Linked DNA regions of Homo sapiens. The protein of the gene in region 2 interacts with the protein of the main gene of each other region in a biochemical or structural test. Each region holds a gene or a part of one and is shown on either strand. Other genes may lie near its edges.

Region 1 (6,026 bases), on a different chromosome or scaffold from region 2:
AACATGTCTGAAATAAAATCAAGTGACGTGTTTTGTTATCCTTTTTGCGTTAAAGTATATGTTTACTTGTGTTCCTGTGCTGTATATTTTAAAAATTTCTGGAAGGCTGCATGAGAAACTGTTAGAATTGTTACTTCTGGATATTGGGATGAGTTGTGGGTGAGGTTAGGAGGTATGTGTGATTTTACTTTTTTTTTTTTTTTTTTAAATTTCCATAGGTTTTGGGGAACATGTGGTGTTTGGTTACATGAATAAGTTCTTTAGTGGTGATACCAAGATTTTGGTGCACCCATAACCCAAGCAGTGTACATTGTACCCAGTGTGTAGTCTATTGTACCCAGTGTGTAGTCTGTTGTCCCTTGCCTCCCTCCGCCAAGTCACCAAAGTTTATTGTATCATTCTTATGCCTTTGCGTCCTCACAGCTTAGCTCCTACTTATGAGTGAGGACATACAATGTTTGGTTTTCCATTCCTGAGTTACTTCACTTAGAATATTGGTCTCCAATTCCAATTCCATCCGGATTGCTGTGAATGCCATTATTTTGTTCCTTTTTATGGCTGAGTAGTATTCCATGGCGTGACTTTTCCTCTGGGTAGATACCCGGAAGTGGGATTGCGGAATCAAGTGGTAGGTCTACTTTTAGTTCATTAAGGACTCTCCATACTGTTTTCCATAGTGATTGTACTAGTTTACATTCCCACCAACAGTGTAAAAGTGTTCCCTTTTCATCACATCCATGCCAACACCTATTATTTTTTGATTTTTTGATTATGGCCATTCCTGCAAAGTGAGGTGGTGTTGCATTGAGGTTTTGATTTACATTTCCCTGATAATTAATGATGTTGAACATTTTTCTTATGTTCGTTGGCCATTTGTATATATTCTTTTGAGAATTGTATATTCATGTCCTTAGCCCACTTTTTGGTGGGATTGTTTGTTTTGTTCTTGCTGATTTGTTTGAGTTCCTTGTAGATTCTGGATATTAGTCCTTTGTTGGATGTATAGATTTTTTTCTCCCACTCTATGGGTTGTCTGTTTACCCTGATGATTATTTCTTTTGCTGTGCAGAAGCTTTTTCGTTTAATTAAGTTTCATCTATTTATCATTTCTTTTGTTGCATTTGCTTTTGGGTTCTTGGTCATGAAGTCTTTGCCTAAGCCATTGTCTAGAAGGATTTTTCCAATATTGCTTTCTAGAATTTTTATGGTTTCAGGTCTTAGATTTAAGTCTTTGATCCATCTTGAGTTGATTTTTGTATAGGGTGAGAGATGAGGATCTAGTTCCATTCTTCTACATGTGGCTTGCCAATTATCCTACCACCATTTGTTGAATAGGGTGTCCCTTCCCACTTTATGTTTTTGTTTGGTTTGTCAAAGATCAGTTGACTACGTATTTGGCTTTATTTCTGGGTTCTCTATTCTGTTACATTGGTTTACATGCCTATTTTTATACCAGTACCATGCTGTTTTTGTGACTATGGCTTTATAGTATAGGTTGAAGTCAGGTAATGTGATGCCTCCAGATTTGTTCATTTTGCTTAGTCTTGCTTTGGCTATGTATGCTCTTTTTTGGTTCCATATGCGTTTTAGGATTGTTTGTTCTAGTTCCGTGAAGAATGATGTTGGTATTTTGATGGGAATTGCATTTCATTTGTAGATTGCTTTTGGCAGTATGGTCATTTTCACAATATTGATTCTACCCATCCACGAGCATGGGATGTGTTTCCATTTGTTTGTGTCATCTGTGATTTCTTTCAGCAGTGTTTTGTAATTTTTCTTGTCGAGGTCTTTCACGTTCTTGGTTAAGTATATTCCTAAGTATTTTATTTTATTTTTTTTGCAGCTGTTGTCAAAGGGTTTGAGTTCTTGATATGATTCTCAGTTTGGTTGCTGTTGGTGTATAGCAGAGCTCTGATTTGTGTACATTAATTTTGTATAGTGAAGCTTTGCTGAATTCATTTACCAGTTCTAGCACCTTTCTGGATGAGTCTTTAGGGTTTTCTAGGTATATGATAATGTAATCAGCAAACAGTGACAGTTTGACTTCCTCATTACCAATTTGGATGCCTTTTATTTCTTTCTCTTGTCTGATTGCTCTGGCTAGGACTTCCAGTGCCATGTTGAATGGAAGTGGTGAGAGTGGCATCTGTGTCTTGTTCCAGTTCTCAGGGGGAATGCTTTCAACTTTTCCTTGTTCAGTATAATGTTGGCTGTGGGATTGTCATAGATGGCTTTTATTACCTTAAGGTATGTCCCTTCTATGCTGATTTTGCTAGAGTTTTAATCATAAAAGGATGCTGGATTTTGTCAAATGCTTTTTCTGCATCTATTGAGATGATCATGTGATTTTTTAAAAATTCTGTTTATATGGTGTATCAGATTTATTGACTTGTGGATGTCAAACCATCCCTGTATCCCTGGTGTGAGACCCACTTGATCATGGTGGACTATCTTTTTGATATGCTTTTTGAAGGCAGTGTGAGAAACTGTTAGAATGGTTACCTCTACATATTGGGATGAGTTGTGGGTGAGGTTAGGAGGTGGGTGTTTGTGATTTTACTTTTTACACTTTAATATTGTTTGATTCTACTTTGTGCATTAATTTCAAAAAAGACTCTTTTAGAATGTCTAGCCATTCTGAAGGAAATACTCTTGGACTTTTGTTTGAGTTCTAATTTATATGTTATAGTATGAATTGCCAGGTTTTAAGCATTAGCATGCATTCTCTATTTTTGGCAATTTGGAAAAGAATCTTTTCAGTCATTTTTCAGACTCTTACTGAATCTTCCACAATATTTTATATTAAAAGTAAAGCTTTCAGTTATCATAGTCTTGATGTATTTTGAAGGGTTCATGGGCAAAATCAGTAATAGTTTGAGATTTCTAACATACTGTATTTTGTGGGCTTATAGATTAACAGAATAGTTTTTTTTCTTTTTTTAATCTTTTCATTTGTGTTAAAATCTGATTTTCTGTTCAAAGGTTGATGCCCAGCTACAGGTAGTAAGGAAACTGGAAGAGAAGGAGCATCTGTTACAGAGCAACATTGGCACAGGGGAGAAAGAGCTGGGTCTTAGGACCCAAGCCTTAGAGATGAATAAACGCAAGGTATGATTGATTAATCTAATGATGGTTAGTCTCAGTGGAACAAATAAGTATAACACTGTTGAGATTGTAAGTTCGCTTTATTCCTTCAACTTGGGCTAACATTTTGCCTCACTGGCAATAATAGGTGATACAATGGTGTCACTTATTTGTACATCCTACATAGGCAATGGAGGCAGCCCAGCTTGCAGATGACCTCAAAGCACAACTGGAGTTGGCTCAGAAGAAGCTACATGATTTTCAGGATGAGATCGTGGAGAACAGTGTTACCAAAGAAAAGGACATGTTCAATTTCAAACGAGCCCAGGTAAAAGCAGTTGTCTTTTCTTGTCACCTTTTAGGTGTTTTCTGAGGTCGGAAGTGACCCATATCATGAAAGAATCATTAGTCCAATGTATGTCATTTCCTACTAGACTTGAGGAAGTTTGTTGAGGGAAGAGAGTAAGTCTGTTTTCTTCACTGCCATATCCTCAGACTCTTTTATGGTGCCTTGCACCTAGTAGGCACAAAATAAATATTTGTTAAATTAATGAATTAGTAAATTGTTAAAGAAGTAACAGCATAGCAGCAGTAGAGGATTTTCAAGTTCTTGTATAATGTCTCTATTTTTGTCATGCTAGCTGTTTCTCATGATGTCTTTCTGTCTTTATCCGTAAGTCTCTGAATTATTTTAAACCGTTCTACCTTCAGCTTAAAACTAATTACTATAAAACAAAATAGACTGTCCTCTAAACTCTTAGATGTGTTTTCACAGGACTGAATTGGTAATAGATGCAATTCTAATTTGGGGATATAATTATGGTTGCCTCTTCTGAAACAAAAGAAAATATCCTGCCATTTGCAGTTCTCTACATTTCTACAAGATAATTGACCATAAAAGGATAGAAAGTCCCCTCTTTTCACAACAGAAAACTCAAGTCTATTATTTTTCTCAAAAATGATAGATTTGGGTAAGTGTGTCTAATGGGTATGCTATCCTGCCACAGGAGGACATCTCTAGACTTCGCAGGAAGCTGGAGACCACAAAGAAACCAGACAATGTACCCAAGTGTGATGAGATTCTGATGGAAGAGATTAAGGATTACAAGGTTAGAAAAAATGCCTTAGTGATTAGTTTTTTGTCAAAGCTTTAAGTGGCCTAATAGACTGGGAGAATAATTTGCATGATAGTAACCAGAGAATGGTTTATTTTGGAGGTTGGGGGGAAATGATGCTCTTTTTTTAGTGCCTTGTGGGTTTTCTTCTTGGTTGTGTAGTATATGAGAGCCATTTGGATCATAAACTTTCATGGTTGTTCAAACTCTGACATCTTTTCTTTTTAGGCACGCTTGACCTGTCCGTGCTGTAACATGCGTAAAAAGGATGCTGTTCTTACTAAGTGTTTTCATGTCTTCTGCTTTGAGTGTGTGAAGACACGCTATGACACCCGCCAGCGCAAATGTCCCAAGTGTAATGCTGCTTTTGGTGCCAATGATTTTCATCGCATCTACATTGGTTGATCTAAGTCAAGAGAAGAAGAGGAGCTGGCTAGTCAGGAACTTATTCATTAACCACCAAACCTCTACCTCTTCTCTCCTTGACTGTCACCTGTAGGACAGTTTATCAGTCAACTACCTTTCCTCCAGACTTTACTTCCAGGCTCTCCTCTTCAGTAGCTGGATGACTTTAGCAGAAAGGACTGGTAAATACAAGCCTTGGGTTTCAGAATGAATTAGAAACAAATAACTCTTACTGTCTTCCCTCCCAGCTTTGTTTATTTTGTGCTTTTAGACTTTTCAGTGTTTTCTTTTTCCAGCCCACTGTATAAACTTGGATTGTCCATTCCTCCTGAAGAAATCAAGTTGGTATTTTTGATGTGGAAAAGGGAACAAAAGTGGAAACATGGCTACTTTTGGGGAGTGATATTTTAAAAAATAAGTTGTCTATGGGCACAAAGTTTTCTTCATTTGTGTAGCAAACTTCTTGTGAATGTGGATTACAAAATGGTATAATTGTGCTACTCTCCCCTGGGTGGTTTGCAGCCCTAATGAAATTATGTCTAGGATGATTCAGTCTATTTCCCATTTACTAGCAGAGTAACTTGTTAAGATCAGCTGGCTTTCTTGTTAAAGTTATTTAAGTTTTGAATGCTCTACTACTTCAAGTCTTTAAATTTCTTGAGACTAGAATAATTTTAAATAATATGACCCTTTGTCTTCTAATGAAATAAAGATTGAAGAGGTTGAGTCAGGACTGAGCTGGTGAAGAAATCTTGTGGGTATTCTGGAAATTTGATACGGAGAGAACTTGGTGAGCTATGAATTACTCTCAGTCTCCTTTTTACAGGGTTGTTGTGATCCCTCTTTTCCAGAAAATTCTGTGGAATGTTTCTGTAGGACTTTGTTCTCCACAAGCTTGAATTAAAGCAGGATTCAGTTTGCATTTGTGTTTATGGTTTTTCTTTGAAACTTTTGTCTTTATTATTACAAGTTGATTTTATATCTGCTGTTATAGAATTAAATTTTCTTGCATGGAAATAATCAGCTTAGGTTAAGAGGTTGGCCTTGTTTAGAGTATTTAGATCTTTGCTTAATTGAAGCACTTTTCTCCCAATTCTTTTATTGAGTCTATTCTATGGAGAAATTATACCTAAAAGATTAATTTATTTGACTACTCAGTTATCTTTCATAGTTCATTAGGTGGGGTAAGAGACTATAATTTGTTTTTTGGGGGAGCATATTGCTGCCTCTAGCTTTAGGGTGAGAGTTCTTGCATTATGTGGTGGGTTTTTTTTTTTTTTTTTTGAGATGGAGTTTTGCTCTTGTCGCCCAGGCTGGAGTGCAGTGGCACAATCTTGGCTTACTGCCACCTCCGCCTCCTGGGTCCAAGCAATTCTCCTGCCTCAGCCTCCCGAATAGCTGGGATTACAGGTGCTCACCACC
Region 2 (7,659 bases):
AGGCGCCTGCCACCACCACCATGCCCAACTAACTTTTGTATTTTTAGTAGAGATGGGTTTTCACCTGCTGGCCAGGCTGGTCTTGAACTCCTGACCTCAGGTGATCTGCCCGCCTCGGCCTCCCAAGTGCTGAGATTACAGGCGTGAGCCACCGCGCCTGGCCTTAAGAGTCCACTTTTTAGATGCTCACATCAGCATCTTGTTTCTACAGTAACTTGTTCAGAGTAAAAAAAAAATGATAGGATTAAAATATTTTAATGACATAACTGAACAGTAACTTCTTCAAGCTAGAAATACTACTGCCGCCTTTTATATAGAGCTATTGTTAAAACTGTATGTCAAAGTTTCAACAAGAAAGATACTCACCACCATCCCTCTCTCTAACTCTGTGAGTATGCACATTTTTGGCCTTACTGTGACCTGTGCTGTCACTGTATTTGTTTTCAGGACTATCAGATCTCCGCAACATTTTATTTGGTGGTGAAGGATCTCCGGCGTCTCGCATCTTTTCATGTCTGTGATCACCGCTACTGGGGTGACTCTTCGATGAATACTTAAGTGCCTGTAAAACATCACCCCCCCAAAAAAAGAGAGAAAGAATTGAAACCTTAAACTCCCTAATTTAAACATAAACTTTGGTGTATTATCATTAAATTTTATGAACTTACAAAATTAAAATTTCCACTTTCAATTCTGCTTTACTCTTTAAAGTTTCTCAGACAAAAAACCTAATGCTTAAGCGTTACAATAAGACTCCTGATAACAAATCACACTAAACACAAAAAAAACCCACTCCATTATCTTATAAACCACCTTGCACACTGATTCTGCAAAAAATAAAAAAATTTGGCTGAGAATATTTAGAATCATTTTTTGATAGTCAAAAGAAAACTAGAAATTCAGTACTACTATAATCAATTTCTGCTCTACAGCTGATATACACAAACACATGTATAAATAAGCACATGCATATTTTTGCAAACCTACCAAAAAAAAAAAAAAAAACCCACACACCAGTTTCTCCAATTCTTTGATTCAAATAAAGCATTTCAGACCTAACTTCCTTACTCTCCCAGGTGTGGGAAACAATTTTAAGGTATAAAAATACTAACCAAAATAAACTAATGTGAGTACTATTTCTAACTAAGCATAATGCGCTCAAAATAATCGTTTAGCTTTATTCTAACACATATCTTAAGACAATCATGATGTACTAATCTGTTGCAATGTGTAATCAGCTATGCTTTGGAGGACAGATTCAGTAAAGTTTAATTTTTGACATATCCAATGTTTTACATATCAGAAGACAGTGTTTTCAAATTCAGCTGTATAACACAACCATCAGGTTAGAAACCTGCTCTCTAGTCCTTTAAGATGTAGAAAGTGTTTTCTGCAGTCATCTGATGGTTAACAATCATTATGAGGTTTCCCTCCTGAAAATTGGGGCCACTTTCATCATAATCCTTAGAACTTCACACACAATGACTGCAGTAACAAAAAGGAACCCACCTACCTAGAACCACCTACATCAGAATGATTATCCAAGTACCCAAAGACCTCAATTCTTACAGAAACAAAAGCACACATATCTTTTACTTGTAAGGCAATTAAGTATACCAAAAATATTAAAAGGGGAAAGGGTAGTACTTTATAACCGACTTGAAAGTTGTAAGTCATTTAGCTATTTACCCAAGTTCTTCACTTAATTTTAATACCTTTACATTAACTTTTCAGTTCCCCCAACACAATAAATAAATAAATAAGCCTCGTAAGTCACCTATCATCTCATCCCATCGATTCCTTCACTCGCAAATAATCAAATAATCGAGTCAGGTCTTTCTGGCTGCAAATGATTCTTTTTTCCTAAATCAGCGAACTCCCTCCAGTCACCTGTCAAAATAAGTCACTAAACCTTGCTGGAGAGCGCTAAAGGAACCAAACCTGGAATTTTAAGGGGATCCGCGGTGCTAGTTTCAGATGTGTTGCACCGAAGGGCCTGTATCGACTTCTGAGGCCTGCGCTCGAGTAGCAGTCCCTCCCTTCCCCCTCCGGCCCCTTCCAATCCCTCCACCCCGGCCTCGGCTGGTACCTGGTAAGGCTGCGAGTCCCCCCTCCGGTCGTGACAGCTGAAAAACAGGAAGAGAAGGCAGCGACATAAGACACGGCGCGGGTGGGGGGCCGGGGAGGAAGAAAACGGGGCCCCCGCCGCCCCTCCCCGCGGGAGACCTACCGAGCGCCCCAGCGCCGAGCCCCGCACGCACACGGCACAAACCCGGAGCCTCCGGAAGGGCCGGAGAGGGCGAAATGCCGCGAAGCCGGGCCCCCGCTCCCCGCCACACTGCGTTCCCGCCCGCCCGCCCGCGCGGCCGCTCCTCCTCCCCAACCCGATCCGGATCAGGGTTAACAACAAAAATGGCGGCCCGGCCAGCTCCAGATAAGGAGGAACAGCCCCCCCGCCGCCGCCCCCCGCCGCCGCCCGGCCCGAAACGAAAAGACAATTTACCCATCACTGAGTCTCTGCTGTTTCCTCGCATACATTACCATCAATGCCCGGCCTGTGAGTGTGTGTCGGGGAGGGGGGAGAGCGGCCGCGAAAGGCGGGCGGGCGCGCAGGCGGCGGCGGCGGCGGGCGGCGGGCAGCCCCGGCACCTGGGCCCGGCGCGCCCTCGGCGACTCTCATCAGCTCCCAGTTACTGGCGCCGGCGCTCCCGGGCCATCTCCCTCCGTCGACACCACGCTCACTCTCAGCCGGGGCAGCGGCGCCAACTACACGGCGGCACCGCGAACCGGGGGGAGGGGGGCAAGACGACGCGTCCGGCTCAGCCCCGCGGAGAGCGACTGCCTCCTCCGCCTTCTCCTCCTCCTGCTCCGCCGCCTCCTCCCCTCCTCCCCCCGCCGCCGCCGCTGCTGCCGCCGCCTGGTCCTTCTTCTCCTCCTCCTCCTCCCGCCGCCGCCGCCGCCGCTGGTGCCGCCGCTGCCGCTCCACCAACTACATCCGGGCAACTCGGACGCTGCCGCCTTCGGGAAACCTCGGCAGTTTCCGCCGGGCCCCTCCTCTCCCACCCTCGGCCTTCCTCCCCGCACCGCGCGGGTCCGGAACACCGCCCTCGGCAAACCTCGGCTGGCTCCGGCCTTTCTCCTCCTCTGAGGCCTGGATCTTCTCTTCGCGACCAGTCTGCCCTTTCCTTCTTTTCCTCACTCGCGAGTCGGCCACCGCCGTTCCCGTTTAGGGATAGTCTCGCTCGGGCGCCTGCTCGAGGCTGATCTCAGGGGCTCCGGGCTGCGCAGGGAGGGAGCCGCCTTCCGGAAGAGGACGGTGGGGCGCGAGGGAAGCCATCGCGGACTAAATAAGGGAGGCTGCAGCGGCTGCGCGTGCGCCCAGAGGCGCAGCGGGAGGGGGTGCTCTCGGGCGAGCTCTCCGGCCGCGGCCCCCGCCCCTGCGCTGTCGGGCGGGGAGGTCGGAAACCCCCTGGCGAGACCACGGGCGGACGCTTCCCGAAGAGCTGCCTGGGCTGCAGCCGCGGAAGCTGCGTTCTGGGGAGCGGGGAGCGTGCTCCGGCGCCTTCGGGCCGCTGCTGGAAGCCGGAACCGAGCCCGGGCCGCTGCCCCTCACCGGACGCCGCGCGCCACCGGCCCTCCGCGGGGCAGGGGCTGCTGCGAGCTCGCCGGGCGCCCTTTAGACGTAAGTCTCACCCTGCGCCCCGAGGCAGGAAGGAGCGCGTGCAGTCCCGGCCAGAAACGGCTAATAGGAAGGGCTGAGGGGTTCTGTGTTCAAGGCAGAAGGCCGTGCGTCAGGGCGGCCCTCAGCGGAGATGCGTGCACGGAGCGGGGAGCGCCGCTCGGGGCAGGGAATGAAAGCGGCGCTTGAGACTGGAAATTTAGGGAGATGAGTTCCTTGGGAACAACGCTGAACCATCTCACTGCCCCACCCTACCCCTTGTTATTTTTTTTTGAGACAGGTCTCGCGCTGTCGTCCAGTCTGAGTGCAGTGACGCGATCACGGCTCACTGCAGCCTCGACCTCCGGGGCTTACGGGTCATCCCACCTCAGCCCTCTAAGTAGCTGGCACCACGGGCATGCACCACCACACCCGGCTAATTTTTTAAAAAAAGTTTTTCCGGAGATAGGGTCTCGCTGTGTTACCCAGGCTGGTCTCGAACCCCTGGCCTGAAGCGATCCTCCCGCCTCGGCCTCCCAAAGTGCTGGGATTACAGGCGTGAGCCACTGCGCTCGGCTTTTCACCCCTTTCTAACGTTTTCCATCCCTTTCTAACGTTTTCCATACCCAGCGGTGCCCTGCCCACCCTCTCTTTATCTCTCACTTTTCCCTCCTCTGTTTCTTCCTCGCTGAAGTCCATTGGTGAAAGAAAATTCATGTGAAAGTTCTCAGGTGTGTTAAGTGAAATTGCTACAAATTTGATTTTATGTACTGCTGCAGGTACATTGAGAGAAGAAACGTGAAGTATACCAAACAACCGTTAGTTGAGAGTGGTGGTATTCGGGTGATTGGTTGACTTTTTTTTTTTTTTTTGCACTATTTGTAAGGCAACATAGTTTAATGAAAAGAATTGTGGTAAACATAATTAGGTGATTAACACAGAAGAGGCAAATAGTAAACAAGTCAGAAGAAACAACCCCCTCCAAAAAATAAAAAGTAACTGATTTACTTGGTATCCAAGAAGTTACGTTATTGCTAGACCTAATAGAATGGAGAGATGGAATGATGTAGGGAGAAAGGCTCTGAAATCACAACTGGTTGGAAAAAAAATTTTAATTACATAATCTTATTTGTCACATCCATCTGCCAGATGTAGAGCTTATTGCTGTTTGTGGAGATGTGCAGACCAATAAAAAGCCTATTTAATGCTCTCTTAAACTACCAGTAACTAAAAAAAAAAATTGACAGTGACTGAAATTATGAAAACAAAAAAATTCGGTAGCATCTTAACATGTAATTTCTGACATATTTGTAGTGAATCCATTGAAGACAAACATCAGAGGAGTACAACAAATAACATTTCATAGAAACTTTGAAAACTGGCAGCAAAATTACTACTAATTTGTTTGATAACTAGATGTCTGCTGAAATTGGTATAAACCATTTGCTCAAAAGTAGCCAGGCATGGTGATGCATGCCTGTATTCCTAGCTACTCCCAGAGGCTGAAGCTGAACAATCACTTTAGTCCAGGAGTTCGAGACTGCAGTGAGTCATGATCACACCAGTGCACTCCAGCCTGGACGACAGAGGGAGACCCTGTCTCAAAAAGTAAATAGGCCGGATGCAGTGGGTCATGCCTGTAATCCCAGCACCTTGGGAGGCCAAGTCAGGTGGATCATTTTGAGGTCTGGAGTTTGAGACTAGCCTGGCCAACATTTTGAAACCCCATCTGTACTAAAAATATAAAAGTTAGCCAGGTGTGGTGGTGTGCGCCTGTAATCCCAGTTATTCGGGAGACTGAGGCAGGAGAATCACTTGGGCCTGGGAGGCGGAGGTTGTGGTGAGCCAAGATCTTGCCACTGCACTCCAGTCTGGGTGACAGTGAGACACTGTCTCTAAATAAAACCACATTATCAAAAGTCTGATCTGCTCTCCTTTACAGAAATACTTTATCTTTACTTCTCTCTCGAACCCACAGACTTCATTCCCACACTTCTGGACCTGTTCAAGATCATCTGTAGCATCCATGTTTTCAAGTCTGATTTTTATTTCTCAGTCTTCATCTCCACTTGTCAGCAGCATTTGACACAGCTGATAACTTTCTTCTCCTTAAAGTTCCTTATCTTGCCTACCAGGATTTCATTTTCTTTCTTGCTTCTCTTCCTTCCCAAATGGCTGTTCCTTAGACTCCTTACTGGTTTCTCCTTCTTTTCCAGCCTCTAAATGCTGGAGTGGCGTGAGATTCAAATCTTACAACCCGCACTCCTCTGTTCTCTCTCCCTAGGCAATCTCATTCAGATCTCTGGCTGGATGAAACCCACATTTGAATTTCCAGTCCACACCTTTCCTCTGAACACAAGACTCACACTTAACTGCCTACTGTATAGCACTGCTTGAGTTTCTAACAGGCATCACAAACTTAATGTATTCAAAACGAAACTCTTAATCTCCCCCCACCCCAAACAAGTCCTGCTGAGATCTTCCCAATCTCTTGAAATGACAACTCCATTCTTCTAGTGGAGGCTAAAAACTTTGGAGTCATCTTTGATTGTTTTATATCTCACATTGACTCCATCAACAAATTTTGCCAGCATTACCTTCAAAATGTATCCACAATCTGATCTCTGTAACCCACCTCCAGCAAGTTCACTCTGGTCCAAGCCACCATCATTAAACCTGGACCGTGGCAAAGGCTTTCTAACTGATCTTGCCCTTCTATGCCTGCTTCCACATTGTTTGCTGTCTCATACAGTGCAGTAATCCCTTAAAAAGTCAGATAATATTCCAATCTTGAATAAAAGCCAAAGTTATAGCCATGATCCACTAGGCCATATGTAAACTGCCTGTTACTTCTGGCTTCTTATCCACTGACTTCTTTATTTGCTCTTTTTTTGTTTTTGTTTTTGTTTTTGTTTGAGACTGATTCTCACTGTCGCCAGGCTGGAGTGCAGTGGGATGATCTTGGCTCACTGCAACCTCTGCCTCCCAGGTTCAAGCAATGCTCCTGCCTCAGCCTCCTGAGTAGCTGGGACTACAGGCACGTGCCACCACACCCAGCTAATTTTTGTATTTTTAGTAGAGACGGGGTTTCACCATGTTGGCCAGGATGGTCTCCATCTCTTGACCTCGTGATCCACCCACCTCAGCCTCCCAAAGTGCTGGGATTACAGGCGTGAGCCACCGCGCTCAGCCCTGCTTTCTCATTCTTTTCCCACCATTCTACCCTCCCTCCCTGTTTTCTCCAGTATACCAAGCATGCCTCTGCCTCAGGACCTTTGCACTGCTGTCCCTTTGCCTGGAATCCTCTTCCCCCTTAGTACTTGCTTGGCTCACACCCTCACTTCTTCAGGTCTCTGCTTAAGTCTTGTCTTGTTTAATTGAGAACTCTACATGATGGCGCCCTACCACCATGTTGCTCCCTTAACCCTGATCTATTTTTCCTAAACCATTTGCCATATATTTTGTTTATTGGTTGTTTCCCACTAGAATGAATGCTTCATGTGGCATACCATAAATATTTGTTGAATTAAAGGATATTTGCCTGCAGAAACGTATACGATAAAAATAGCAAAATTGAATTCTCAAGAGGAAAAAGCTTGGGTTCTATTTCTGTTTGCTTTGTGAAAGAATAAAAGAATTACAAATCCAGTCCTGTTCTCACAAATAAGATGGAGGATAAAGCTAGATTATTCCTAATACAGGCAAAATATTGTAATAGATATTAAAAAATGTACATGAATTTGCATGTATAGCAAATCTTAAAGCAGATTATTTACACTGCTATCTAATGAGAAATATCAAGTTTGCAAATGAGTAAAAGACCCATATTTCAACCTGTAGACTGAATACATACCAACCAATAGAGGGGAAAAACTATCAACTCATAGGTTATATATAGGTTGACCAAGATTTTAATGTGATTCTATTGAAGGAAGAACTGAAGGAAGAACCAAAAAGTGAAATCCTCAAGCCTCTAGTTGTGAAAGGGATTTTTTTTTTTT

What was found.
Region 1: the proteins of WAC (region 2) and RNF20 form a complex in vitro, tested with the Homo sapiens proteins (2 studies listed by BioGRID).

What each region holds. Positions count from the first base shown.
Region 1 is NC_000009.12:101,557,819-101,563,844, forward strand, and holds the end of RNF20 (E3 ubiquitin-protein ligase BRE1A), read left to right. Parts: intron 1-2,982; coding exon 2,983-3,108; intron 3,109-3,271; coding exon 3,272-3,412; intron 3,413-4,091; coding exon 4,092-4,193; intron 4,194-4,427; coding exon 4,428-4,604; 3' UTR 4,605-5,526; downstream 5,527-6,026. UniProt on the Homo sapiens protein: Component of the RNF20/40 E3 ubiquitin-protein ligase complex that mediates monoubiquitination of 'Lys-120' of histone H2B (H2BK120ub1).
Region 2 is NC_000010.11:28,528,465-28,536,123, reverse strand, and holds the start of WAC (WW domain-containing adapter protein with coiled-coil), read right to left. Parts: upstream 3,007-7,659; 5' UTR 2,681-3,006; coding exon of another isoform or gene 2,545-2,680; coding exon 2,504-2,544; intron 2,127-2,503; coding exon 2,090-2,126; coding exon of another isoform or gene 1,942-2,089; intron 1,891-1,941; exon of another isoform or gene 1,778-1,890; intron 581-1,777; coding exon of another isoform or gene 563-580; coding exon 367-562; intron 1-366.